Homo sapiens: one gene and its partners. The protein of the gene in region 2 purifies or fractionates together with the protein of the main gene of each other region. This does not show direct contact. Each region holds a gene or a part of one and is shown on either strand. Other genes may lie near its edges. The genes, in order: GAK, DMWD, USP12 and WDR6.

Region 1 (3,570 bases), on a different chromosome or scaffold from region 2:
TGGACAAGCCCCGGGTCTGCCTTGGCTCCTGGGGGTGACGTGGGGACACTGCCCCAACCCCCGTGGACAAGCCCTGGGTCTGCCTTGGCTCCTGGGGGTGGGGTGCTGCCTCCACAGCTGCCCTGTCCTGGTGTCTGCCCTCCATCCAGAGTGTTCCCGTCGCCCCAGCACCTGGCCTGTGCTCCAGCCCCTGGAGACCTTCACACGTGTGGGTGGAGCCGGCACCTCTGGACGGCCTCGAGTGATCGGTGTTCTATTTTGCAAGCGCATGTTTTCCAATATACGTGGTGCTCTGCGTTATAGAAACAGTAGTTGCCCCTCATGGACAACCAGATGCCGAGTTTCCGATCTCCATCTCCACAGGCTCACCAGCTGGATTCCCTCCTGGGGGCTTCATTCCCAAAACGGCCACCACGCCCAAAGGCAGCAGCTCCTGGCAGACAAGTCGGCCGCCAGCCCAGGGCGCCTCATGGCCCCCTCAGGCCAAGCCGCCCCCCAAAGCCTGCACACAGCCAAGGCCTAACTATGCCTCGAACTTCAGTGTGATCGGGGCGCGGGAGGAGCGGGGGGTCCGCGCACCCAGCTTTGGTGAGTCCCCCACTCTCTGTTGCTGTGGAGTTTGCAGAGACCTCCCTGAATTGGCTAAAGGTAGAACCTATGTTGTTTTCTTCATCTCAGAGCCCAGTCCTGGGACAGGCACGGCCAAGCCACTCAGAGAACGACGCGGTTTCCGATGTGTGTTCACTGGTCTCTCTCTGGGTCAGGCCTCTGGGTCCCTCTTGTTCCAGTGACACCTTCTTGACCTGTTTTTAACAAATGGCCTTTGCAACCCTGTCTTGTCTTCCCTCTTCTTTACTCTGGAGGCATCAGGATGGTAGCCCTGTTCCCGGGGGCAGCAGGTGGAATTGGGCCTGTGTGTCTCTGCAGAAAGTTTCTGTTCTTAACTGGGCTTTGTGGCTCACGCCTATAATCCCAGCACTTTGGGAGGCTGAGGCGGACAGATCGCTGGAGCCCAGGAGTTCAAGACCAGCTTGGGCAACAGTGATACCTCCTCTCTACAAAAAATGTAAAAATTAGCCAGGCATGGTGGCGCATGCCTGTGGTCCCAGCTACTTGGGAGGCTGAGGCAAGAGGATCGCTTGAGGCCGGGAGGCAAAGGCTGCAGAGAGCTGAGATCACGCCATTGCACTCTGGCCTGGGTGACAGAGTGGAGACCCTGTCTCAAACAAAAAAAAGTTTCTGTTCTTTTCTAGCTCAAAAGCCAAAAGTCTCTGAGAACGACTTTGAAGATCTGTTGTCCAATCAAGGCTTCTCCTCCAGGTCTGACAAGAAAGGGCCAAAGACCATTGCAGAGATGAGGAAGCAGGACCTGGCTAAAGACACGGACCCACTCAAGCTGAAGGTGGGTGGGTGGGCAGCTCTTCCTGGGAGCCCAGAGGCCTCAACCCATGGCCCCTGGAGCATCTGCTGTGCCTTATGGAGCCGGCGTCTCCAGACAGCAACCTTTCACCCCTGGAGCATCTGCTGTACCACATGGAGCCGGCGTCTCCAGACAGGGACCTGTCACTGCCGATGGGCCTGGCAGCCCTCAAGGACAGGGTGGCCTGAGGCCAGGGGGGCAGGGCAGAGTCAGGCCCCAGGCTGTGCTGCTCCCCACGTGCCCAGATGGCTCAGCGCTGGTGGGGGTGGGGTGGGCGGGCGTTACAGGAGTGAGTGCCCCGGGGTGTTTGCAGAGACTGTTGAGGGCAGGCGTCTCTTGGGGGCTGCTCTGGGTACTGAGCCTCCCAACCCAGGACGCTCACTGGGGGGTGAGGATGCAGCGGTCAGGCTGTCACTGTGCCGGCCCTGAGACACGCCCTGCTCTGTGGCTTGGCCGATGCCCAGCTCTGCAGGCCACATGCGCCTGTGACCTTGGGGTCCTTTCACAGGCACCAGGGACCATCCCCTTCTCCCTCGGAGTCTGGGGCCTGGGATGGGCCAAGGGGTTGCACCACCAGAACCAGGGTTTGTGTCCTCGGTGAACATCTGGCTGAGACGAGGGTCCCTCTGGCCCCAGGCCCTGAAACATGAAGACCACCTGGCCCTGTGTCGTCCGGAGTGGGCTCTATATAGTTGAGGGCAGGGCGTGCAGTGGGACAGTGTCTGTGAGCCGGGCTGAGCCCACCCCACGTGACCAGGCACTTCCTCAGCGTCGTGCCTCAGTTTCCGCGGTGCAGAGGAGGAGGGCAGGCAGGTGCCCAGGGCTCGGCAAGCTCCGTGTCTCCCGCAGCTCCTGGACTGGATTGAGGGCAAGGAGCGGAACATCCGGGCCCTGCTGTCCACGCTGCACACAGTGCTGTGGGACGGGGAGAGCCGCTGGACGCCCGTGGGCATGGCCGACCTGGTGGCTCCGGAGCAAGTGAAGAAGCACTATCGCCGCGCGGTGCTGGCTGTGCACCCCGACAAGGTGAGCAGAGCTGCCAGGCGGCCGCTTGAGGCCTTCAGGGGCGGGGCGGGGGGGGGGTCCTGCCCCGCCCGCCCCCGCATGCTTATAAGAGGCGCTTACACCGCCTGTCACCCATAGGCTGCGGGGCAGCCGTACGAGCAGCACGCCAAGATGATCTTCATGGAGCTGAATGACGCCTGGTCGGAGTTTGAGAACCAGGGCTCCCGGCCCCTCTTCTGAGGCCGCAGTGGTGGTGGCTGCGCACACAGCTCCACAGGTTGGGAGCCGTCGTGGGACCTGGGTCCCCACCGTGAGGACCCCGTGGGCGACAGCAGGTGTGGCCAGGGTGGGGCTCCGAGCCCCGGGTCACCGCCCGCCCAGCGTTCCAGGCACATGAAGAGAAAGCATTCCAAAGCCTCTGATTGTTGTTTCCTTTTTCTCCTCCCGAAGGAACAGCTGATTCATGCTCCTCCCGCAATTGTCACGTCTGTGATTTATTTGGTGTTTCGGGCGTGGCCTCTGGAGCCCCGGCACGTGGTGGGCCACGCTGCTGGCGCTCATGGGCCCTGGTGTTTGCACCGCACTTTGTAATCAGTCCCGTGGTTGTCTGTACAGAATTAAACTATTTTCCGATGACTGCTGTGTCTCCAGTGTGGATCCACTCGCCCAGGTGCCGTTCACCAGCTGGGGCACAAGGCTGTGCTTCCTCAGCAACCTTGCCGTGGTTGGATTGTTGCAGGGGCCGAGTGGAGAGGAGAAGCGGGTCCCGGGGCTGCAGCGGCTCTGGGCAGCTCTTCAGGGGGCCATAGAGCCCAGCCAGGGCAAGGCCAAGGGCGGGGGCCCCTGCAGTCCCCAGACCCCCTTCCTCCCCTCGGCCCCGGGACTCCTCTCTCCTCTCCACTTGGCCCCTGCCCCTGGGCCCTGGACCTAGGAGCAAGGGTGGGCTCCACACTGCCCCTGTGCCATCCCCGCAGGGCCAAGGTGGCCTCCGGGCTGTCGGGCTGGTGGAGGACCAGGGGCCCCTGGAAGGAGAAGGTGACCATGGTGAGCCCCCACCCCACAGCAGACTCGAGGAGGCCCTGAATCATAGCCCTGAACTCACCGCCAGGCTCTTCCTGTTTTCAGAGAATAATGACTGCACGTTT
Region 2 (7,885 bases):
AGATGTGGTTTCACCAGGGTGGTCTCGAGCCCCTGACCTCAGTTGATCCTCCTACCTCGGCCTCCTAAAGTGCTGGGATTACAGGCCTGAACCACCGCACCTGGCAGGGAGTTTTGTCTAGTTTGTTTACTGCTGTGTCCCCAGCACCTAGACAATTTTATTTATGTCCCACATGATATGTTGGACATAAATAAAGTGTCACAATATAAATAAATTGATATCCAACATAAAATTATGTCTCACATAAATAAAATATGAGCCACATATATAATTTAATTTTTTTTGTTATTTTTAGTTACTTATTTCTTTTTTTTTTTTTTGAGACAGAGTCTCACTCTGTCACCCAGGCTGGAGTGCAGTGGCGCGATCTTGGCTCACTGCAAGCTCCGCCTCCCAGGGTTCACGCCATTCTCCTGCCTCAGCCTCCCCAGCAGCTGGGACTACAGGCGCCTGCCACCACGCCCCACTGATTTTGTTTTTGTATTTTTAGTAGAGACGGGGTTTCACCGTGTTAGCTAGGCTGGTCTCGATCTCCTGACCTTGTGATCCGCCCGCCTCGGCCTCCCAAAGTGCTGGGATTGCAGGCGTGAGCCACTGCGTCCAGCCTAGTTACTTATTTCTTGATTTATTTTGAGATACGTTCTCACTCTGTCACTCAGGCTGGAGTGCAGTGGCATGATCACAACTTACTGCAGCCTCAAACTCCTGGGCTCCGGCAATCCTCCCCCCTCAGCCTCCCCAGTAGCTGGAACCACAGGTACGTGCTACTGCAACTGGCTAATTTTTAAACTTTGGGAGGTGGAGGCGGCAGATCACTTGATGTCAGGAGTTCAAGACCAGCCTGGCCAACATGATGAAACCCCCTCTCTACTAAAAATACAAAAATTAGGCCAGGCATGGTGGCTCATGCCTGTGATCCCAGCACTTTGGGAGGCTGAGGCAGGCAGATCACTTGAGGTCAGGAGTTTGAGACCAGCCTGGCTAACATGGTGAAACCCCGTCTCTACTAAAAATATAAAAATTAGCTGGGCGAGGTGGTGTGTGCCTGTAGTCCCAGCTACTTGGGAAGCTGAGGTGGGAGAATCACTTGAACCCAGGAGGCAGATTTTGCAGTGAACCCAGGAGGTGGAGTTTGCATCCAGCCTGGGTAATACAGAGGAACCCAGTGAGCACATTTCACCCTGCCATCCACAACTTTGCAGTCATGCTATGCACATGCTGGGTCCTACCCTTAAAGAAAGTCAAGGCTGGCCAGGTGCGGTGGCTCACGTCTGTAATCCCAGCACTTTGGGAGGCCGAGGCGGGCAGATCATGAGGTCAGGAGTTCCAGACCACACTGGCCAACATGGTGAAACCCCATCTCTACCAAAAATACAAAAATTAGCTGGGCGTAGTGACGCGTGCCTGTAGTCCCAGCTACATGGGAGGCTGAGGCAGGAGAATCGCTTGAACCTGGGAGGCAGAGGTTGCAGTAAGTCGAGATCACACCACTGCACTAGGCAACAGAGTAAGACTCCATCTCAAAAAAAAAAAAAAAAAAGTCAAGTCTGGGGCCTTTGAGGGAGAATTTCACAGTGTCTCACTGCTTCTCCAGAAAGTTTGAGAACATCTACATCGGCTGGGGTCACAAGTACAGCCCCGAGAGCTTCAACCCGGCCCTGCCAGCCCCCATTCAACAAGAGTACCCCAGTGGCCCAGAGATCATGGAGATGAGTGACCCCACAGTGGAAGAGGAGCAGGCTCTGAAAGCAGCCCAGGAACAAGCCCTGGGAGCCACAGAGGAGGAGGAGGAGGGCGAGGAGGAGGAGGAGGGCGAGGAGACAGATGACTGAGGCCCACCCTCTAGCCACTTTCCCCAAGCAGGTAGATAGCAAATTTCCCCTTAGAGGTAGTTAGCATGGATTATATTTTCACTATGTGCTTCCTGTCCCCAGAGGGCAGGGATAGAAAAGGAAGGCAACTGCTTCAAATAAAATTCCTCCACGGCATTATGGATGAGCCATTCATTCATTTGTTCACCACCTCTGTTGACATGGACTCCAAGCCAGGGCTGTTGGGCCCTGCAGAGAGCACAGACATTGCCTGGCAGAGTCTCTCCCACCTGTTTGGTTTTTGTTGTTGTTGTTTGAGACAGGGTCTCATTCTGTCACCCAGGTTAGAGTACAGTGGCACAATCTCAGCTCCCTGCAGCCTTGACCTCCTGGGCTCAAGCAGTCCTCCCATCTCAGCCTCCGGAGTAGCTGAGACCGCAGGTGCACATCACCACATACACTAATTTTTGTATTTTTTGTAGAGACAGGGTCCTGAGTAACTAGGACTGCAGGCACAGCCCACCATGCCCAGCTAAATTTTTTCAATTTTTCAGAGTCTCACTATGAGATGGGGTTTATGTTGCCCAAGCTGGTCTTGAACTCCTGGCATCAAGCGATCTGCCTGTCTTGGCCTCCCAAAGTGTTAGGATACAGCTGTGAGCCACCGCGACCAGCCCCACCTGTTTTATTTATTCATTTACCTAGCCATCAAACCATTATTGAAATACCTCCTGTCAGCCCACCCCTGTGCTGGGGACACAGACAGCTGCAGTCCTGCCTTCCTGGACCTCACAACACTATAGGGAGAGAGACTCATTTCCAGACAGTGACAGCCCAAATGGGGAAGCCCAGAGGACTGACAGAGCTCCCGAGCCAACTCTTAAAGGGTCAAGAAAAGAATGGGGAAAGGCATTCCAAGAATAGGGAACAGAATGTGCAAAGACCCAAGGACAAGAGAGAGTGTGATATGTTGGGGTAGTTTTTCAAGCCTCATTTTAGGTGGTGGATAGTGTGAGGAGTTAGTGGTGAGATATGAGATTGAAAAGAGGTTGGCAGGGGCCAGATCACTTGGGGCTTAACTTTCCCCTGAGAGCACTAGGGAGCTACAGATGGGTTTTGAGCAGGGGAGGGCCCTGATCATATTCATGCTTTAGAAAGACCTCTCTAGGCCTAGTGCAGTGGGTCACACATGTAATCCCAGCACTTAGGGAGGCCAAGGTTGGCGGATCACCTGAGGTCAGGAGTTTGAGACCAGCATGCCCAACATGGTGAAACCCCGTCTCTACTAAAACTACAAAAAAGTAGCTGGGTGTGGTGGCAGGTGCCTGTAATCCCAGCCACTCAGGAGGCTAAGGCAGGAGAATCACTTGAACCCAGGAGGCAGAGGTTGCAGTGAGCCAAAATCGTCCCATTGCACTCCAGCCCACGTGACAAGAGCGAGACTCTGTCTCAAAAAAAAAAAAAAAAAAAAAAAAAGCCGGGTGCAGTGGCTCATGCCTGTACTCCCAGCACTTTGGGAGGCCGAGGTGGGTGGATCACCTGAGGTCAGGAGTTCGAGACCAGACTGGCCAACATGGTGAAACCCCGTCTCTGAGCCGAGATGGAGCCATTGCACTCCAGCCTGGGTGACAGGGTGAGACTGTCTCAAAAAAAACAAAAACAAAAACAAAATAAAACCTCTCTACATGCCAAGTGAAAGGTGGAAGTGGGGGTGAGACAGAAATCTGGGAGACCAAGAGACACGGTTGATGTGGGGGTGGGGGAAGGGCTTGGGTAGAGGAGAAGCTTGGATCAGGGAGAACAAGGAACTGAGAAAGAGGAATTCCACGTGGTCGAATGCAAAAGACTTGGAGGCTGTAAGCGGGGGCAGAGTGAAGATAAATGGTACACATCTAGGAAGACACCCAGGTCTGTGGCCTGGTTGACTGAGTGGACGGCAGAGCTAGCCCTAAGGTGGGGATGCAAGAGAGGTGGAGGATTTGGTGTAAGACGTCAATTTCATTGTAGGATTCTTTTTTCTTTCTTTTTTTTTTTTTTTTAGAGAGACTGAGTCTGACTCTGTCCCCCAGGCTTTAGTGCAGTGATGTGAATTCATAGCAGTCTTGATCTCCTGGGCTCAAACGATCCTCCCACCTCAGCCTCCCAAAGTGCTGGGATTCTCGGATTCCAGGCATGAGCCACCATGCCCGAACCATTGTAGGATTTTTTTTTTTAAGTGTGAGATGCCCTTGGGACACTCTAGGGAGAAATCGTAGAGGCCATTGACTACATGAGACTAGAAAGATCTATGATGGGGCTGGGTGGCTTCAGCAGACATGGGGAGCACTGGCTATGAGTAGGAGCTGTTGGGATCAGGGGGAGACTTTGGGTTACGAGTGGATCACTGGGACACTGGGGCACCGTGGGGATCAATACAATTTGGGAATCAGAGGTAGGTTTTGGAGGACAAGTGAGGTTGTTGAAAATAAGAAAATCATGGAAATATACATTGGAGGTTGGTGGAAAATATGAAGGATGTTTGGAGTTAGCATTAATCAATAGTGGGTCAGAGGAAGTCCTCTGAGTTGTGTGGGGACACAGGGATTTGGTGGGTCACCAAGGGTGGGGAAGAATGGTAGCAGATGCTGTGGTCATTCAGGGATTTGAATATGTCAGTGGGAAACACTGGAGGTCAGGGGAGTGTATATTGGGCGTCTAAGGAGAGACCAGGGTCACTTGGGGTTGGCTGTGACTTCATGGGAAGGCTGGACTATGGATGAGGGCTTCTTTGTCGTGGGGGAAAAAAAAAAAAAAATCCCTCCGTTGCTAGGCAAACGTTCCCAGGGCGCGGTTGCTAAGGACTTGAGCTTTCTAACTGGCCACGCCTCTTTCCATTGCGGGCTCCGCCCCCGCAGCCAACCACAAGTCGGTCACAGGCTCAAAGGCCGCGCCCACCTTCTCGCCCCGCCCACAGTCCCAGCACCGTTACCCGAGCGACCGCGGGGATTCGTCCCGCCTCCGGATCTGGGTGCCAATCGAAGAGGCGTTGCCCGGGCGACGACCCCACCTTTTCCGGCGCGGGCCAGCGGCTTCCGGGAGGGGGCCCGGCTGCGGGCGGCAGTCCGGCAGTGGCGGGGCCCGGGGGGCGCCCAAGATGGCGGCGGGCGGCGCGGAGGGCGGCTCGGGCCCCGGCGCCGCCATGGGGGACTGCGCGGAGATTAAGTCGCAATTCCGCACGCGCGAGGGTTTCTACAAGCTACTCCCGGGCGACGGCGCCGCTCGCAGGTCGGGTCCGGCTTCCGCCCAGACTCCGGTGCCGCCTCAGCCACCGCAGCCCCCGCCCGGCCCTGCCTCCGCCTCCGGTCCCGGCGCTGCAGGCCCCGCGTCGTCCCCGCCGCCCGCAGGCCCCGGACCCGGGCCCGCCCTGCCCGCCGTGCGCCTCAGCCTCGTGCGCCTCGGGGAGCCGGACAGCGCCGGGGCCGGGGAGCCGCCCGCCACGCCCGCGGGGCTGGGCTCGGGGGGAGACCGCGTCTGCTTCAACTTGGGCCGTGAGCTCTATTTCTACCCAGGCTGCTGTCGTCGTGGGAGCCAACGGGTGAGCGGCCTGCATCGTGGGGCCCTGGGTGCTGAAAGGATGGAGGTTCCAGAGAACTGATAGGAGGGTCCCCGAATTGATATGGGGCCCTGAGATAGGCATTCTAAATGTGATGGACGTTGTAGGGCGACAGCATTGGAGGGAGTACAGGATTCTGAAATGTGATGAGAGGCCCGCGGGGTGCTGGGCAGGCATCTTGGAGGTGATGGGGGAAATCCCCTTTACCCCCGTTATGCGTAGGAGTTCTGGGATGGTGACTATTGGACATGATGGGGTATCTGAGATGAGGTGGGATCCCCCGGGTTCTGGGGTGGCAGGCATTCTGCAGGTAATGGGGAATCATGAGGTGATGCAAGCCCAGAGGTGATGGAGAACCCAGTATTGCAGCCTGGAGGTGTGGGAGAGGGGTCTTGAGATTGAGCCCAGGAATGAGGAGAAGTCTAGAAGTGATGGGGGCCTTGAAGGTGATAGGGGATCCAGAAGCTGAATGGGATTCTAGAGAAAATTGGGGTCTGGAAGTCATGAGGGTCCTGGAGGAGATGAGCGTCCGGAAGCTGATGGGAGCTCTCAAGGGAATGAGAGGCCCTGGCAGGGGAATCTGCAGGTGTGATTCAGGACATCTCTAAAGCGATGTGGTGAGAACCCTGGCCGTTTATGGTGATCCCAGAAATGATGGGGATCCTTCGGAGCCCCTAGGTAATAAATGGGCCTAAAATGTGGGAGACCGTGAGGTTTGACGGGTCCCAGAACTGTGGCGGTTTAGGGACTACAAAGTGAAGAGAATGCTAGGATGTTAGGCTTTAGAGTCCTGGAAATTTGGGTGACCTCAAGGTTTGGGGGTCTTGGAATAGTGTGGTACTAGGTCCCAAGGGAGTTGCTGAGGTTATAGGATGGAGTGGTGAGGCTAAAAGGAATCGGAGCTTAGGAACTGTGTGGACCCAGAACCCTGATTATGTGGACAAGGGTGTCTCTGAATTAGAGGTGACCCAACTTTGGGGAGGCACTGTGGTCAAGGGGGATCCTTACCATCTTTTTTGCTACTCTTGTCTGTGATTTGGGTCCCCTTCCCGTCTGTGGTTGCCCCGTCCTTCGCAATCCACCTACTCACCTCCCCACTTCCCTCTGGGTTCTAACCCTGCTTCCTCTTAGTGGTTTCCCCCAACCTCAACATCCTCTTCCTTCTCCTCAGTGGCATACACCATTAACTCCTTTTCTCCCACCCCTCAAGTCCATTGACCTCAACAAGCCAATTGACAAGCGGATCTACAAGGGCACCCAGCCCACCTGCCACGATTTCAACCAGTTCACTGCTGCCACCGAGACCATCTCGCTGCTGGTGGGCTTCTCAGCGGGTCAAGTGCAGTACCTGGATCTCATCAAAAAGGACACCAGCAAGCTGTTCAATGAGGAGGTGATTGCAGCCCCCAGAGCCCCCAACTTCTCTGCCTTCTCACCTACCCACTATATGCCATTAGGATGCAGCTGCCTGCGGAACAGTGTAGGCCTGAGAGGGGCAGGACCAGGGAGAGATGGAGAATGGGGTGACAGCAGCTAATGACAGCTGCCTTTACTGTACCCAGGCCCTGTGCTGTGTTACCCTTGTGCTGAATACTTTACTCCTTGGGTTTTCTTTCTTTCTTTCTTTCTTTTATTTATTTATTTTGAGATGGAGTCTCACCCTGTCACCCAGGCTGGAGTGCAGTGGCGCGATCTCTGCTCACTGCAAGATCCACCTCCCGGGTTCATGCCATTCTCCTGCCTCAGCCTCCTGAGTAGCTGGGACTTCAGGCACCTGCTGCCACGCCCGCCTAATTTATTGTAGTTTTAGTGGAGATGGGGTTTCACCGTGTTAGTCAGGATGGTCTCGATCTCCTGACCTCGTGATCTGCCCACCTCGGCCTCCCAAAGTGGTGGGATTACAGGTGTGAGCCACCATGCCCGGTTCTTTTTTTTTTTTTTAATTGTAATTGTAATTTTTATTGTTTTTAATTTTTTTTTTCTTTTTAAGGCGGAGTCTCACTCTGTCGCCCAGGCTGGAGTGCAGTGGTACAATCTCGGGTCACTGCAACCTCCGCCTCCCAGGTTCAAGCAATTCTCCTGCCTCAGCCTCCTGAGTAGCTGGGACTACAGGTGCGCACTATCATACCTGGCTAATTTTTTTTTTTGAGATGGAGTCTCGCTCTGTCGCCCAGGCTGGAGTGCAGTGGCGCGATCTCGGCTCACTGCAACCTCTGCCTCCCGGGTTCACGCCATTCTTCTGTCTCAGCCTCCCCAGCAGCTGGGACTACAGGCGCCCAGCACCACGCCCAGCTAATTTTTTTGTATTTTTAGTAGAGACGGGATTTCACCGTGTTAGTCAGGATAGTCTCGATCTCCTGACCTCGTGATCTGCCCGCCTCGGCCTCCCAAAGTGCTGGAATTAAAGGCGTGAGCCACCACACCCGGCCAATTTTTGTATTTTTGGTAGAGATGGGGTTTCACCATGTTGGCCAGGCTGGTC
Region 3 (7,030 bases), on a different chromosome or scaffold from region 2:
ATTCTTTGGTGTTTTGGTGACCTTAGTGTTTTGAGCAGGAAATCAACTTCTTTTTTCTTCCTTCTGCTGCAAAATCTACATAATGAGTTTCAGACTCCTTACACGTATGTTCAAGCAGTTTTCTGCTTTTTTTTGGAGCCATTTCAATATGAGGGAAATTTTGTAAGCTAGTCTCTCATCATCTTTAAAATATGGCTCCACACATATTTTTGCTTGACAATTCCATGGGTAGTTGGTTTCTTTGTGGTAGCCAGCACTTCTCCTCTGGGAGGATCTTTGGCAAATAGGATTCATATTCTTCATGTGTTATCTTATTAAACATATTGTATCTGCTATTATTGAGATATTTTCTCTTTTCTGCATTTGGACTCCTCCCCTTGTGTAATTTCTAAAAGCACATTTTCCCTAACCATCGGGCCATGTTCATTCTCTTTCCTCCTCCTAATCTTACCTGACTGCCATTTATTAATAGTGCACTGACACTCATTTTATGCTCAGAAAATTCTTCTTTTGCATCTACCATCCATTGGAAATTCTCAAAGGATACCTTGTTGTTTTGTAAAGATTTCTTTTCAGTAACTCTATGTGGGTTTAATAAAAGGTCTGATGTTTCATAGTTGAATTATATTTTATGTATAATTTTATATCCTGACTTCTTAAGTATTTTCTTATGTCACCTAGAAACTTTCATCAGCATTGTTTTATTTAAGTTGTACAACACTCGGTTATGTTTGAATTCTAATTTATTTCCACATTTCCTGTTGCTGAATAGTTGGGATTTTTTACAATGTAAAAGAACTCTAATAGGAGATTATTCTCATAAGGGATGTTTTTGAGATTATACATTTAATTGTATTTCCAGAAATAGGATTACTGAGACAAAGGCCATAAAGGCTCCTAATTTATATTGGTGGATTGCTTTCTAGGAGTGACTAGGTGTTTACCTTTACTTTGGCTAATGTTTCCAAAAGGCCAAGTTCATTCACTAGTAAGTAATTTAGGAATAATAAGCTATCCACCATATTTAAGAAGTGTAGAATGCAGATTTAGTATAATGTTATAAAATGATTTTTTTTTTCACTTATTAGAGGCAGTGGCTTACCATATATCACTTCTTTAAATTGTGAGGAGTATTTTGCTTCACCAGACCCATTTAAAATTCAGTTCTGCAGCATTTGGCATCTATCATATGTCAGGCATGTTGCTAGATAGTGGGGAAATAAAAATGAAGGGAATGCTTTCTAGCTGCCAAGAGTTCAGGGCCTAGAAGAAAAGAACCATAATCACCTAAAATTGTTACCATGTAATAAGCTTGACATATATAAAGTGAACCTGTAAGGTGCTGATGGAGGATTGAAGAGAGCAGGTGTATTTGTGCCAGAGGGTGTGACATTTGAGCTGAGCCATTAAAAGAAGAATAGATTTTTAGGTGAAGTAGGAGTACAAAGGCACTCTCAGGGAGAAATGGCATTTAAAGGCATAATAAAGATTGTTTAGAACATGAAGAACAGCCTGTGTTTCACAGTTAAAAACTTAACTCCTAAGTTTCCAGGTTATTTTACTCCCTTTCTAGGATATACATTGTCATTTTTCTTAATATGGAGTTATTTCTTGTCTCTGACAAGCACCTTGATTGGTCTTTAGTGCTTTTATTGTTTTAGTCTCCTATTGTCAGTCTGTACCTGCATCATATAGATTGATAGAAAAAATAGATTTCAGTCTACCCAAGTCCAAAGGAATTGTCAGTTTCAAGAAACTTGTTTTCCCTCTACCACTCTTTTTTTTTTTTTTTTTTGAGACGGAGCCTTGCTCTGTCACCCAGGCTGGAGTGCAGTGGCGTGATCTCAGCTCACTGCAACCTCCGCCTCCTGGGTTCAAGCGATTCTCCTGCCCCAGCTTCCCGAGTAGCTGGGACTATGGGCGCCTGCCACTATGCCCGGCTATTTTTTGTATTTTTAGTAGAGACAGGGTTTCACCATGTTAGCCAGGCTGGTCTTGAACTCATGACCTCAGGTGATCCACCTGCCTCGGCCTCCCAAAGTGTTGGGATTACAGGCGTGAGCCACCGCGCCTGGCCTTCCCTCTACCACTCTTGAGCACCCCGTGCATTTAGCCTTATTATAAGAGACGTGTGTTTGAAAAATACAGATTCCTTAACCAAGGACTAACGCCATTCCATCTGTTTTGGAGCCATATTGAGTGCTGTGTCAAATTATGTGGTGTGACAATGATGGGTAGGGTGGGGTCATATTAAGATGTTCAGAATGTTGTTTTGTCAGTATAAAAATAATTGATAGAAATGTGCAAAACTGGGCATTGCTGGGCTATTAAAACTGACCATTGTCTATCTGTTCATTGGATATCGTAAAGTTTGATAATTCAAGGACATGGTGGATATCTTTTATGAAATTTTGTTTTCATTTTTATTTTTAATAGGATGAAAGTTAAAAAACTGCCCATGATTCTAGCTCTACACCTGAAGAGATTTAAATATATGGATCAACTTCATCGATATACAAAACTCTCTTACCGGGTAGTTTTTCCTTTAGAACTTCGTCTGTTTAACACTTCAGGTGATGCCACCAATCCAGACAGAATGTACGACCTTGTTGCTGTTGTGGTTCACTGTGGAAGGTAATTGCAACTCCGGGGACATAGTAGTGGAATTCCTAGGTTAGAAGAGCAGGGTACATTCAAGATGTTCATGAATTATTCATATATAGAACTTTTAGAAATTCTGTATTCTCTCAAGATAATTTTATTTCAAAATGGAGTTTTAGCTTTATGTTTTATCATTTCTTAAAAATTTTATATGTTAAAATATATTGTTTTTATTTTTATTATTTATTACTCTACAAGTACTATATCTGATTTCCTAGAACTTTGAGATCTGTTAGTTTTTCTTTTCCTTTTTTGGGGTGTGTGTATAGAGGGTTGTTGGTTAAAATAAATCACTTCTGAGTTTAATTGCGTATGTTCAGCATATCAATGGTTGTAAAAAGCATTTTAAAATGGCATTGGAAATAATCTTCAAAGATTCATTTTTTGATTTTACCTGTGTGTGTATTTATCATTTCTTATTAGCCAATTTTGCTTTCTGTCTTCTTCTCATCTTCTTTTCCAACATGGTATACACATCTTCTCTGTATGAACGTACATACCTATAATTGGCCTTATTAAATACCTCAGAAAATTCTCAAACTGCAAGAGCATCACATAATCAAAACTTGTATTTGGAACATAACTGTCTTCATTGACTGCTTAGAATTTCCTTTAATAATTTTAAAGCAGGCACTCATCATTTTCCCCTTGGTTTTGGGAAACTTGTACTAACAGCATGTTTTATCCAAATAAAAAAAGTTACAGCTTTCTCATCTTCAGCCCTCCTCCCAGCTCTCTGATTAGAATTTTTTTTTTTTCTTTTTGAGATGGAGTCTTGCTCTGTGGCCCAGGCTGGAGTGCAGTGGCGCCATCTCGGCTCAGTGCAAGCTCCGCCTCCCGGGTTCACGCCATTCTCCTGCCTCTGCCTCCCGAGTAGCTGAGACTACAGGCACCCACCACCACGCCCGGCTAATTTTTTGTATTTTTAGTAGAGACGGGGTTTCACCATGTTAGCCAGGATGGTCTTAATCTCCTGACCTCGTGATCTGCCCGCCTCGGCCTCCCAAAGTGCTGGGATTACACGCGTGAGCCACCGCGCCCGGCCTCTGATGAGAATTTTTAAGGACAATCTGGAGGGAGCAAATGCTCTTTAATAATCGTCTTCTTCCTCCATTGCCTGGGTCAGCCTTGGGTCCCGTCTTTTATCCTCAGCAAGAATCTTTCTTCTACTTCTAAATTAAGAGTGATCACATCTTAAAGGAGTGAAGCAGTGTCAAGATTACTTAAAGAACCTTGGTGTAGTGATTCAGACCGGGTTTTCAGAGTGAGAGAAACTTGGATCTCAGTACCATTTCTGCCAATTGTGGGCAGTGTAACGTTATGCATAGCTTCCTGAAAAGCCTTCAGTTTTCTCTTCTAGAAAATGTAAATAATACTAATTACCACATTGCTTTGTTAGGATTCAAAGGGAGATGTAAATCGCTTAGCTACTGCTACTGTTCTATTAACAAAAATGTAATATTACCTTCTCACATCTTAGCTTTATAATATTTACTTTCTCACACCGATTAGCCTCTTCAAATTTAGTGACAGTCCTACTCTACTTAAATCATGCTAGATTTTTAGAATTGCTCTACTCACAATATACTGAGCTGAGATGCCTGACTCATTGGGGAGGGGTCCCCTCCCCACTCTCCCCTTTTAAAATTAACCCAACTCTTTCCCCAGCCTTAAATCCTTAAGTCTCTTGACCCTTTCCCTTTTTAACCTTTTCTTTGGCCTCACTTGCTTCTCCCAACTTGAACTCCACAGTCAGTTATTTAAAGCATGTTCTCACAAGCACTGTAAAATCCTCTTGCCAGCTGTCTGAATCCCTACTGTCAGAATTGTTGCAGAAAATTGCAGAGAGATGTTTATTGACTTTCCTCACAGCCCTGGTGGTCTGCCTTCACTGGGAACTCTCTCCTGATGGAGTTCTGCACAGCAGGTCTTTGGTATCCCGCCCCCACCCCAGGGTCTTACTCTTTCTCCTGTCTCACTCTCATTGCCTCATGCCTTCCTGCCCCTCCGCTCTGGAAGTCTTCCTTGACGCTCTTCTGCCCAGCCTCAGTCTCCATGTGGTGCTGCTCCATTGTCTTCACATAAATACTAGACGTGCATTGCTAGCCCTGTCTTAGTGCTTTATGTACTCTCTTAGGATGTATGTCTACTTCCCTTATGAGAACAGGTGCTTTTTAAAACAGAAAATAATTTGCTCACTAATAAAAGACTAATCATATTTTAGAATCTTTTTCCATTGTGTATTTTATTTATCAGACTTATTTGTAGATTTGCTTCATATGAAAGTGTGGAGGGTGTGCGCAGCCTCATTATCAGCATGTCAGTTCCAGTTCAGCTTGCTCCTTCTCTGTCCCCGGTGCCCAGCCTAGAAGAGACTTCTAGCAAATGTTTGTTGACTTAAGTATTACCCTTCAAGCCCATGTCAAAACTGGGCACCATTTCGTGATTTCCCATCCCTCTCTCCCTTCTACCTCCTGTCTTGCTGGATGAGGTCTCTCCTGTGGCTCTACTTTTATATCATATTCTTCCTTGGATTATGTTTTTGGAGTAGTTATCTATTGTACTGAAGGGGTATTTGGGCAAGCAGTTGTTGGTATCTCTTTAATCTCCACAGCAATCAATAGTTATTTGCATACCTTACGCATTTGTATCTACTCAACTGAGTGTGTTTAATGTCCAGAAATCAGATGCCTAAGAAACAACTTCCTTAGGTGGAAGTTCAGCCCTTCATCTCTCATTTCATTTTTAGTTTATGAAATTAACTTTTGTCTACTGTTCCTCAAACTAGTTCTTTGCCAAAGGAAAAAGCCGCCTAACTTTTTTCAATTTACCAGTCCTTACCCCACCCACCTCCTTTCCTTCCACCCTGTGTTCTGCAACCTTTCTTTGATTTTTCTTTATTTCACCTTTTATAATTTTGTTTTCATTTCTGACCCTCTCCCCATAACACACAAGACCCTTTAGATGAGCCTAAATAAATACAGAAATAGACTTAAAGCATTAAATGCTTTTTTAAGAAAAAGTTTTGATGTGTCATCCTCCATAGTTAAAAAAAAAAAAGTATTTTTGTTGGTGTCATTCTGTCAAAGATATTTATCTCACCTACAGGATCAAATGATCTGAGAAACATAAGATATTATAGTAGGTGGCTTATTCTAATATCTGGTCACTACTTTTAAAATAGTGTTCACCATAAAGAATAATTTGTGTTGAAAAGGATTTTAACTTCTGTATTAATTATAGAATTACAATTTAATAAATATAATTATATGAGCCTTTATAATGAACCATACTTAAACTGGAAGAGGTTAAAACCTTTGTCATATCCTTTTATAAAGAAAAGGAATTATGCTTCTTTTATTTTTATGTATATCTACATTTATATATTCCAGATTTGTTTGAAATGAGATGCAGGGGCAATCATAGTCATAGTTATAATGGTATTAAGAATTAGGTACTTAATAATGACTTACCATTGAGCAAAGGTCATTTGCTTTTAAAGACATTTTATGAAGTTCAGGCTTGATTTTGGAACCAAGGATTTGATATCCTTGCCTGTTTCAAGCATCATATTGGATCTTTCCTCAAGAAAAAAACCATTACCAAGGGAGTGAGACTTAGAAATAATTCTATATGCATTGTTTTATAGTCCAACTCAGCATGTTCTGCTGTGATCCCCTCCCTTATAAAATGATAGAAAAATATGTCTTTTATTATAGAAGCAAAATTGAAAATTATTACAAAGACAGTAAAAAATTTCAGTAATATAGCTGTATGTGAAAAGAATACTGATATATCTCTTAGAGTACTAATTATTTGATTTTAAAATTGATGACCAGTTCAACTCAGTGTAGCTTTATCTCTTTTGGCAAGAATAGGTAAGGGGTATAAAAAAGAAGCAGTTCTTTTTTACTGCTATTTATCTGTTTCTGTTTCTTTATAAAACAAAATTTAGAGCATGAAAGAGTAATATTAATAAATATATTGAATTAACTTCTTCTTCGTTTGTTTTAGTGGTCCCAATCGAGGCCATTATATTGCAATAGTTAAGAGTCATGATTTTTGGTTGTTGTTTGATGACGACATTGTAGAAGTAAGTAGTTTCTTAATTTCTTATTTTTGAAAGTTGTATGCATATGTTGCTTTTCACTTTTTTCTCATAGTTTTTCATTTATATATGACTGGTGATGATATGAGACAAATGTCTGGGTCTATAGATTGTAGTCTAATTCCTACTTCTTACTCTGCAACGTCCAAGCCCAGCAGTTGAGTGGTCACCTAACCTTTACACACCTAGAATAAAACAAGGGAGGCCAGGTGCGGTGGCTCACGCCTGTAATCCCAGCACTTGGGGAGGCTGAGGCGGGCG
Region 4 (7,342 bases), on a different chromosome or scaffold from region 2:
CACTCTGCCGCCCAAGCTGGAGTGCTGTGGCGCGATCTTGGCTCACTACAAGCTCTGCCTCCCAGGTTTACGCCATCCTCCTGCCTCAGCCTCCCAAGTAGCTGGGACTACAGGCATCCGCCACCATGCCCGGCTAATTTTTTGTATTTTTAGTAGAGACGGGGTTTCACTGTGTTAGCCAGGATGGTCTCGATCTCCTGACCTCATGATCCGCCCACCTCGGCCTCCCAAAGTGCTGGGAATACAGGCGTGAGCCACCGCGCCCAGCCTCATCAGTCACGCTTGATGTTCACTTCAACCACAAATTTCTCAAACTCAGAGCCTCCTCCTCACCTCACTTTTTTTTTTTAATTAAAAAAAAAATAGAGATGGGGCCTGGCACAGTGGCTCACACCGATAATCCCAGCACTTTGGAAGGCAGGAGGCTCGCTTAAGCCCAGGAGTTTGAGACCAGCCTGGGCAACAGGGCAAAACTCCACCTCTAAAAAAATTATACAAATGAGCTGGGCATAATGGCGCATGCCTGTAGTCCCAGCTACTTGGGAGGCTGAGGTGAGAGGATCTCTTGAGCCCAAGAGGTGGAAGTTGCAGTGACCTGAGATTGCACCACTGCACTCCACCCTGAGCAATAGAGCAAGACTCTGTCTCAAAAAAAAAAAAAGTAAAATAAAATGAGAAGGATTTTGACAATGCAAAAAGAAAATAAAAGATGTAAAATGAGAAAGTCTAATCCAGTGGTTCTCCACAGGGGGCAACTTTCCCCACAGGAGACATCTAGCAATAGCTGGAGACACGTACGGCTGTCTCCAGGGGTTGTGCTACTGGCAAGTAAGGCCAGGGATGATGCTAAACATCCTACAATGCACAAACAGCATTCCAACAAAGAATTATCTGGTCTAAAAGGTCAATCGAGGCAAGATTGAGAAAACCCTGGTCTAATCTAACAAGACTGGGTGAGTGTAAGGGGAGGCCAACTTGAGGACACAATATTTAGAGTTAGGATTCAAGGATAAGCAGCAGTTAGCCAGAGGAAAGGAGGCGGAAGAGGGGGACTGGGAAATGTTGGGGCGGGGGGGGGGGGGTGGGGAGCAATGGGAGGGTTTGCAGCTTTCTTGGTGGAGAAAACAGCATGTATGATTGCCCTGAGATGGGCAAGAGCATTGAGTATGGTGGATGGAACAGGAAATGAAGAGCTCAGGAAGAGGCTAGAGAGGCCGGGTATGGTGGCTCATGCCTATAATTCCAGCAATTTGGGGGGCTGAGGCAGGCGAATCACTTGAGGTCAGGAGTTTGAGACCAGCCTGGCCAACATGGTGAGGCCCCATCTCTACTAAAAATACAACAATTAGCTGGGCATGGTGGTGGGCACCTGTAATCCCAGCTACTCCGGAGGCTGAGGCAGGAGAATCACTTGAACCTGGGAGGCGGAGGTTGCAGGGAGCCGAGACCGTGCCACTGCACTCCAGCCTGGGTGACAGAGGAAGACTGTCTCAAAAACAAACAAACAAACAAACAAAAAACACACACACACAGAATTGTAGCTATATAAAAGTCACTTTGGAAGCCACAGAAGTAGGTGAATTCACTTGCAGAGCTTCTTAAACTGCATTTCCCAAGTTATTCCCCACCTTAAAACCCTTCAATAGGTTCTCCCCACTGCCCTTAGGGATAAAGTCAGATCAAGGCCTGAAACAATGTGGCCTCTGCTCGCTTGTCCAGCTTCCTTTCCTCCCAGACTCCATTCCTGCTCTAACTTCACAAGAATTCCCTCCTTCCCCCAAAATGACAGATTCTTCCAGCCTCAAGGCCTTTGGCATGCTTACCCTCTTGCCAGGAACTCACCCCTTTTCCTAGTTCACTCTTGTGGTTCTTTGAGTTTCTGCTTCGTTGTTCCCCCTCAAGGAGCCTTAGGAGTTTAGCTCGCGGTAGGAACTCCGCGCTCCAAGAACCCCCACACCAGATCAAAACTGGATCATCCCCACCCCATACACACACCCTCTTAGGACTGGTGGCAACTCACTCAAGGCCTGACCGCCAAGGCCCTGCCTCAGGACCCTTATACAACTCAGCAGCACCAACATGGGTCATTAGTGGCTTCATGTAATGACTGTTCGAGACCAGCCTGGACTCTGACACCTCAGGTCCCAGGCCTCGCCTGTCCTTTGCGACCCGGTTCTCCTTGGAGGGACCTCCACACCTGATTTCCTGGACCTCAACCATCTCAGGAGGGGGTCTCAGCCCCTGCTTCCCCGGGCACCGCCCCCTACTCGGAAAGGTCTTATCCGCCGTTTTCCGCGACGCCACCCTCCTCAGAGGATCTTCACCCCCACCTTAGGGGGAAGAGACTCATCCCGCCCTCGAGAGGCCACACCCTTGCCCTCTCCCGGCCCCGCCTTCCCCAAGAGGCCACACCCCCTGAGGGGCCGGGGCCGCCTCCGCCTCCTCCTCCTCCTCCTCCCTCCGCCCCCCCCAGCTCGGCCCCGTCTCCTTCGGAGAGGCCAAGCCCCCGCCCATCTCCTAGAAGGGAGCACACCCCCTCAACCCTCAGCTCCCGGGCCTCCGCCTCCGCCTCCGCGCGGCCGCGTTCCCCTGCACCCTCCCGCGGTTCCACCCGCCCTTTCCACGCGGGCTGAAGTTTATGAAGCGCCGCGGCGGCCACATCAGCTTTGTCTCTCGGGCCCCGCCCTCTTCAGGTTGGCCCTCGTCCCCGCCATCTCCGGGGCTCCCTTCCCACCTCCGATCGGCCTCAACCTGCTGCCCGTCCTTCTCCTCAGGGCACCCCTTTTGTCCCTGTGGCACCGCCCCTGGGAGGCGCTGTTTCTTTCCCCCTTTCCACCAGGCGTGCCTCAAGCCAAGCCTCACCCGCCAACAGCCGGTCCCCCACGCACTCCAGACCCGTCACTGGGAGGAGTATAAGCTCCGAGGTTGCCCGCGGCCAAACGTAGTCCTCGAGAGCGTCCATGTCGATCCTCGAGGTGCTGAGGCAGCCACGGCTAAGAAGGGAGCTGAACTCTCGCGAGAACGAGCCTTCCCAGCGCGCCGCGCTGCCCATCAACAGCGCCCTCAGCTACAGGTAGCAGAGACCAGGGCGCCCGCGGCGGTTGTCCAATGACGACCCTTCGTCCCACGCAATCCAGCTCATCATTGGCGGGGCCCGCGGAGGGGCATCCCGCCCCTCGCCCCCTCACGTGACGCTTGCGGGGCGCTCCCAGCTGCCAGCCCGCTGCACCTATCGCGGACTCTGTTTCGCCGACCCGGAGTTTGTCGGGCCCGGCGGCTCGAACCTTGTGGTTTTTTATTTGACGGGGCAGATGGAGTCAGTACACAATAAATAACATGAATATAGGAACTGCGCCGTATCGCGGCTGGCGGGGTGGGGCAAGACATTGGCCAGACCTTTAGTCTGCAGCAGGACAGAAGGACAGCCGGACCCCTGATCTTGGGCAACTGGCGACCCGCGGCTGGGAACCGGGGCTAACTCTTCCCTCAGAGTTCCACGCGCGCATCGCGGTAGGCCCGGTCCAGAGCCCACTCGGGCTGTGAGTCGGTGCCCCCTTCTCGGGCAAGGCGGGCCATCTCCTGTTGGAACAGCGCTTGCCGCGCTCGGCTGGGGTCCACATTAATCCAGTTGTTGGCAATCCACTTGGTGCCGCGCGTGACCAGGCAGCCCCCGTGCAGCGAGTAGTCGTCTACGTCACCCACCCAACCTAGAAGAGGAGGGTGACGTGAGATCCTAGGCTGGGCTGGCCAGAGCTTGGCCTCATAGGCACCAAGAGCATGACCAAGGTGGGTCCAGCTATGCATTCCTTGTGTAGCAAACACCCAGACCTAAAGCTTCCTTGGAGGCTCCTCATCTCAGCCCACTAATGTATAGTCAACACTACTGGCCCTCTGAAACCAGCTTTCTTGCTGTTGGGCCTGTCCATATCCCTTCCCATCCTGGGTTAGCAAGGGACATGTGTCCCAAGCCCCAGGGAGTAGGAAGGCTGGGGCATCAGGGAATGATAGGGATGGATATAACCCAATAAGCAGTACAGGTCCTGGGGCAGTCTGCTAAAGTCACTAAGGATGGCCTTTGGGAGGCACCAGGAGCAGAAAACTATTTGGAAAGCAGCCAGAAACAGCCCTCCATTGTGGCAGACGGGGGCTGGGTAAAGGGAAGCTGTACTCAGGGCACCCCCCCCAGGCCTGGCCATAGGCCCTCACCTTGCCCATCAGGCAGGTAGTTGTACCAGAAGACTGCTGTGCCCTGTTGGGGCTTGACACGCAGGTTTCCCTTGTCACAGTGCCTCCGTGTGTCACGGAGGTCCACGTCATCCTGAATCAGACTCTGTGGGCAGCAGGGTGGTGGGGTGTTCAACCTGTCCCCACTCTATGGCCAGGCCAGCCAAGGGTGACCAAAGGGAAACCAACCAGATATGCCCAAGGAATAATTTGGGCCCACATCCTTAGACCTGGAGAGGTGTGTACTTCACTTGTCTAAGCCCCTGCCAGCCCACAAGAGTAATAGCCCAGTTGACCCTTACCATTTCATCGTAGGTTCTGTTATCTGCTACAGGGAAAACAGTCTCGCCCCCACCAGTGACGTTGTTCAAATAAAACAGCACTGTCATGTAGCTGTAAGGCAGGGGGGGCACTGAGCAGGTCCCCAGTTGTGGATGCTCCCAGGGGCTTACCTGTGGGCAGGATAAGCTGCCCAGGTTCCTGTTGCCAGGGACCAGGACAGACTAGGATGGGAGACAATAGGGCAGGCCAGTGCCAAAATGTCCCTAGCCCCTCCTTCCCCGAAACCCAGTCTCTTACTGTGAGTTGCAATGGTTTTTTGGCCAAGATCACAGGTGCACTTAGTTAAATGCCATGGCCCTGAGCAAGGGCCTGGCAGGGAAAGGTAGGCTAGCAGAAGCAACAGGGCGCGCTGAAGGGCTCCTTGGGGATGGGAAGGGGCTGGGCCAGAACAGCCACCTGAAGAGGAAAGAACTGGCTTGACAGGGGAGGGAGGCACAGCTTCAGCTTCTCTAAGTGGAATCAAGATCAACACCTGGAGGAATGGGCAGGACAAGCTAGGGGCCCAGCCTTGCCCCTTGCTTCAGAACTCAGGGGGCAAGTTTTGGTGTCTGTGGGTACATCAGTCTGTGTTGACTCCAGTGGTCACGATGACCAGTAGCCACCCCTTTCCAGCCATTGGGTAAACAACTTGTGGGGAGAGGTGAGGGCATCACTAACCGGGATAACCCAGTGATCTCCTGGCCCCATGCCAAGGGGCACGCCCACAGTGCAGGGCTGTGCCTGTGTCATGGGTGTTCCTGGTCTGAGGATTGAAGGCAGCCCCCAGTTGGGAGATACTTGCCGGCAGGAGGTCTCGAAGGGTACAGACTCGTTGGCTACCAGCTTGGTATGGGAGCAGATGGTCTCTGGGTACACAGGCCCACTGTCCACGTGGGCATGGTAGTGGCCCCCCTCACCATATCGAACAACCTGCAGCGGCTCGCTGAGCTCCACGATCTCAGGCGACAGGCGAGTGAGGCGCAGCACCCTGGTGGGCAGCAGGCATTTGGCTGGGCAGCCCCAGGCAAGGTGGTGATCTGAAGGAGCTGGCCAAGGTGGACCCTAGGCCTGCCACAAGCTTTGCCCCTACCCACCTCCCCTGGAAGTCCCTTAAGCCATCTCAGACTGGCCCTGTAAGAGCAGGAGGGGGTTACTCATGATGATCCTTCTCCCTCAGATGCCAAAGACAGAGACACCTGCTATGTGGAAATGTTGACATTTCCACTAAATAAAGGGGGCGGGGAGTCCTGAGGTCCTCCTCCCTGGAAGAAAGTTGTTTATTTAAAAACCCTTTTCCTGCTGTGACGGGGTCAGATAAGGGGTCAAAGATAAGAGGTCATTTATCTAATCAGAAAGAAGTGCTCAATCTCTATCTAACCCCAGTTGCCCATTGTGTGCCTGCAAGGAGGGCTAATTTGCCTTTGTTAATTGCCTGTCTTTCAGTGGGTCCCAATCCTGGTCTAACAAATGGAACTTAATCCCAAATGGGTTAATCCATTCTGTCCTCTTGGCCCCAGACAAGGACTTCTGTGGAGGCCCTGCCCAGTCTTCTCCCCCTGCTCCAGTGAGAACAGCTTCAGGTGCTCACCTCTGGCGGATGGCACGCATGATGTGGTGGGCACCCTCACCCTGGTAGAGCCAGGTATGGTGGCTGTTCCGCACCAGCTCACTGGACTCTGCCTTGTGGCTCCTCATGTACTTGTGGAAGTCCCGAAGGTCCATGTTGGAGAACTCCTGCAGACTCAGCACTCCTGCACAGGGCACCCACCATCAATGCCCACCAAGCCCATATTGGGAGGCAACAGTGGCAGGCTGCACTTCCCTACCTACCCCAAAGGCAGCAGCAGCCCCTGACCTCAGGCACTGAGGGGCCTTGTACACTTGTCCCCCACCTGGACTTTTGGGTCAGATGAACCTGGTTTCTGTCACATCAGGCCTTACAGGAAGACCCAGAGCAGTTCCTTTTCTCAGTTTAAGCCCTAATTTGGCCCTAAGAAGAAAGAGGCCCACCCCCTATTAGAGTGGCCAGAGAAGGTTCTCCAAAGGAAGCTTGAGCCATATGGCCAGGACCCTGGCCTTCCAGCCTGGCTATATAGAGTGGTGGCCACTCTCCGGCCTGTGGAGGGTGAGGAGAGAGCAGGCAGTGCTGGGCCTCATCCAGGGCCTTACATACATACGCCAGGGTGCAAGCAGGGCCAGCCCCCGGGGAGTTCCTCATGACCCCAGGTTTCATCCTGGGTGGAACCTACTTCGCCAGCCCTGCCTACTGCGTTACCAGCCCACCTTAGCAACGAAAGTCAGGCCACCCCCTCTCATGAGAACATTCTCCACTGTCCCTGCTCAAACCATTAAGCAGGGGTTCTACCCTCTTGGGGTTCTGGAAGAGTAGTTGGTATCTTTGCTCCATGTTATTCTGGCTGACCCAAGGACATCACCTTCCACTCTTTGGCCCAGATTCCTCTGAGGGTGGGGGACATTCAAGGGCTGTGAGACTGTCACCACCTCTGTTCTGGGGCCTATAGCAGTGTGGCAGCCATCCAGCCACAGGTCACGGCCAGATTCTTCACTCTGGTTCACCAGCCGCAAAGCCACTGTTCCAAGTCCTTTCTAACTGCTGTATCTTCCTCTCTTGGTCCAGAATTTGGGCATGAGGGTGATGACCACACCTCAGAAACCTCCTGAGAGTTATTACCAGAGGGGGCACCACTTGCATGACAGCTTCCCTGCCCACCCCTCCCCAGCAGTTAGCACAGGTAGCAGCACTACCATTTTAGGCGCTTCGGCATGACTCCAGGTG

What was found.
Region 1: the proteins of DMWD (region 2) and GAK purify together in Homo sapiens (affinity purification with mass spectrometry; 3 studies listed by BioGRID and IntAct, with this or other methods). This does not show direct contact.
Region 3: the proteins of DMWD (region 2) and USP12 purify together in Homo sapiens (affinity purification with mass spectrometry; 3 studies listed by BioGRID and IntAct, with this or other methods). This does not show direct contact.
Region 4: the proteins of DMWD (region 2) and WDR6 purify together in Homo sapiens (affinity purification with mass spectrometry; 2 studies listed by BioGRID and IntAct, with this or other methods). This does not show direct contact.

What each region holds. Positions count from the first base shown.
Region 1 is NC_000004.12:848,768-852,337, reverse strand, and holds the end of GAK (cyclin-G-associated kinase), read left to right. Parts: intron 1-363; coding exon 364-588; coding exon of another isoform or gene 589-791; exon of another isoform or gene 792-1,029; intron 1,030-1,253; coding exon 1,254-1,402; intron 1,403-2,269; coding exon 2,270-2,446; intron 2,447-2,563; coding exon 2,564-2,665; 3' UTR 2,666-3,061; downstream 3,062-3,570. UniProt on the Homo sapiens protein: Associates with cyclin G and CDK5. Seems to act as an auxilin homolog that is involved in the uncoating of clathrin-coated vesicles by Hsc70 in non-neuronal cells. Expression oscillates slightly during the cell cycle, peaking at G1.
Region 2 is NC_000019.10:45,789,816-45,797,700, reverse strand, and holds the start of DMWD (dystrophia myotonica WD repeat-containing protein), read left to right. Parts: upstream 1-4,855; 5' UTR 4,856-4,944; coding exon 4,945-5,385; intron 5,386-6,613; coding exon 6,614-6,796; intron 6,797-7,885. Other genes in the region: RSPH6A (radial spoke head protein 6 homolog A), read left to right, coding at 1,595-1,832. UniProt on the Homo sapiens protein: Regulator of the deubiquitinating USP12/DMWD/WDR48 complex. Functions as a cofactor that promotes USP12 enzymatic activity.
Region 3 is NC_000013.11:27,070,795-27,077,824, reverse strand, and holds part of USP12 (ubiquitin carboxyl-terminal hydrolase 12), read left to right. Parts: intron 1-2,436; coding exon 2,437-2,634; intron 2,635-6,675; coding exon 6,676-6,754; intron 6,755-7,030. UniProt on the Homo sapiens protein: Deubiquitinating enzyme that plays various roles in the regulation of the immune response and inflammation.
Region 4 is NC_000003.12:49,003,052-49,010,393, reverse strand, and holds the start of WDR6 (tRNA (34-2'-O)-methyltransferase regulator WDR6), read right to left. Parts: upstream 3,004-7,342; 5' UTR 2,963-3,003; coding exon 2,863-2,962; intron 2,790-2,862; exon of another isoform or gene 2,735-2,789; intron 1-2,734. Other genes in the region: P4HTM (transmembrane prolyl 4-hydroxylase), read right to left, coding at 3,487-3,707, 4,207-4,330, 4,527-4,676, 5,224-5,533, 6,134-6,296. UniProt on the Homo sapiens protein: Together with methyltransferase FTSJ1, methylates the 2'-O-ribose of nucleotides at position 34 of the tRNA anticodon loop of substrate tRNAs. Required for the correct positioning of the substrate tRNA for methylation.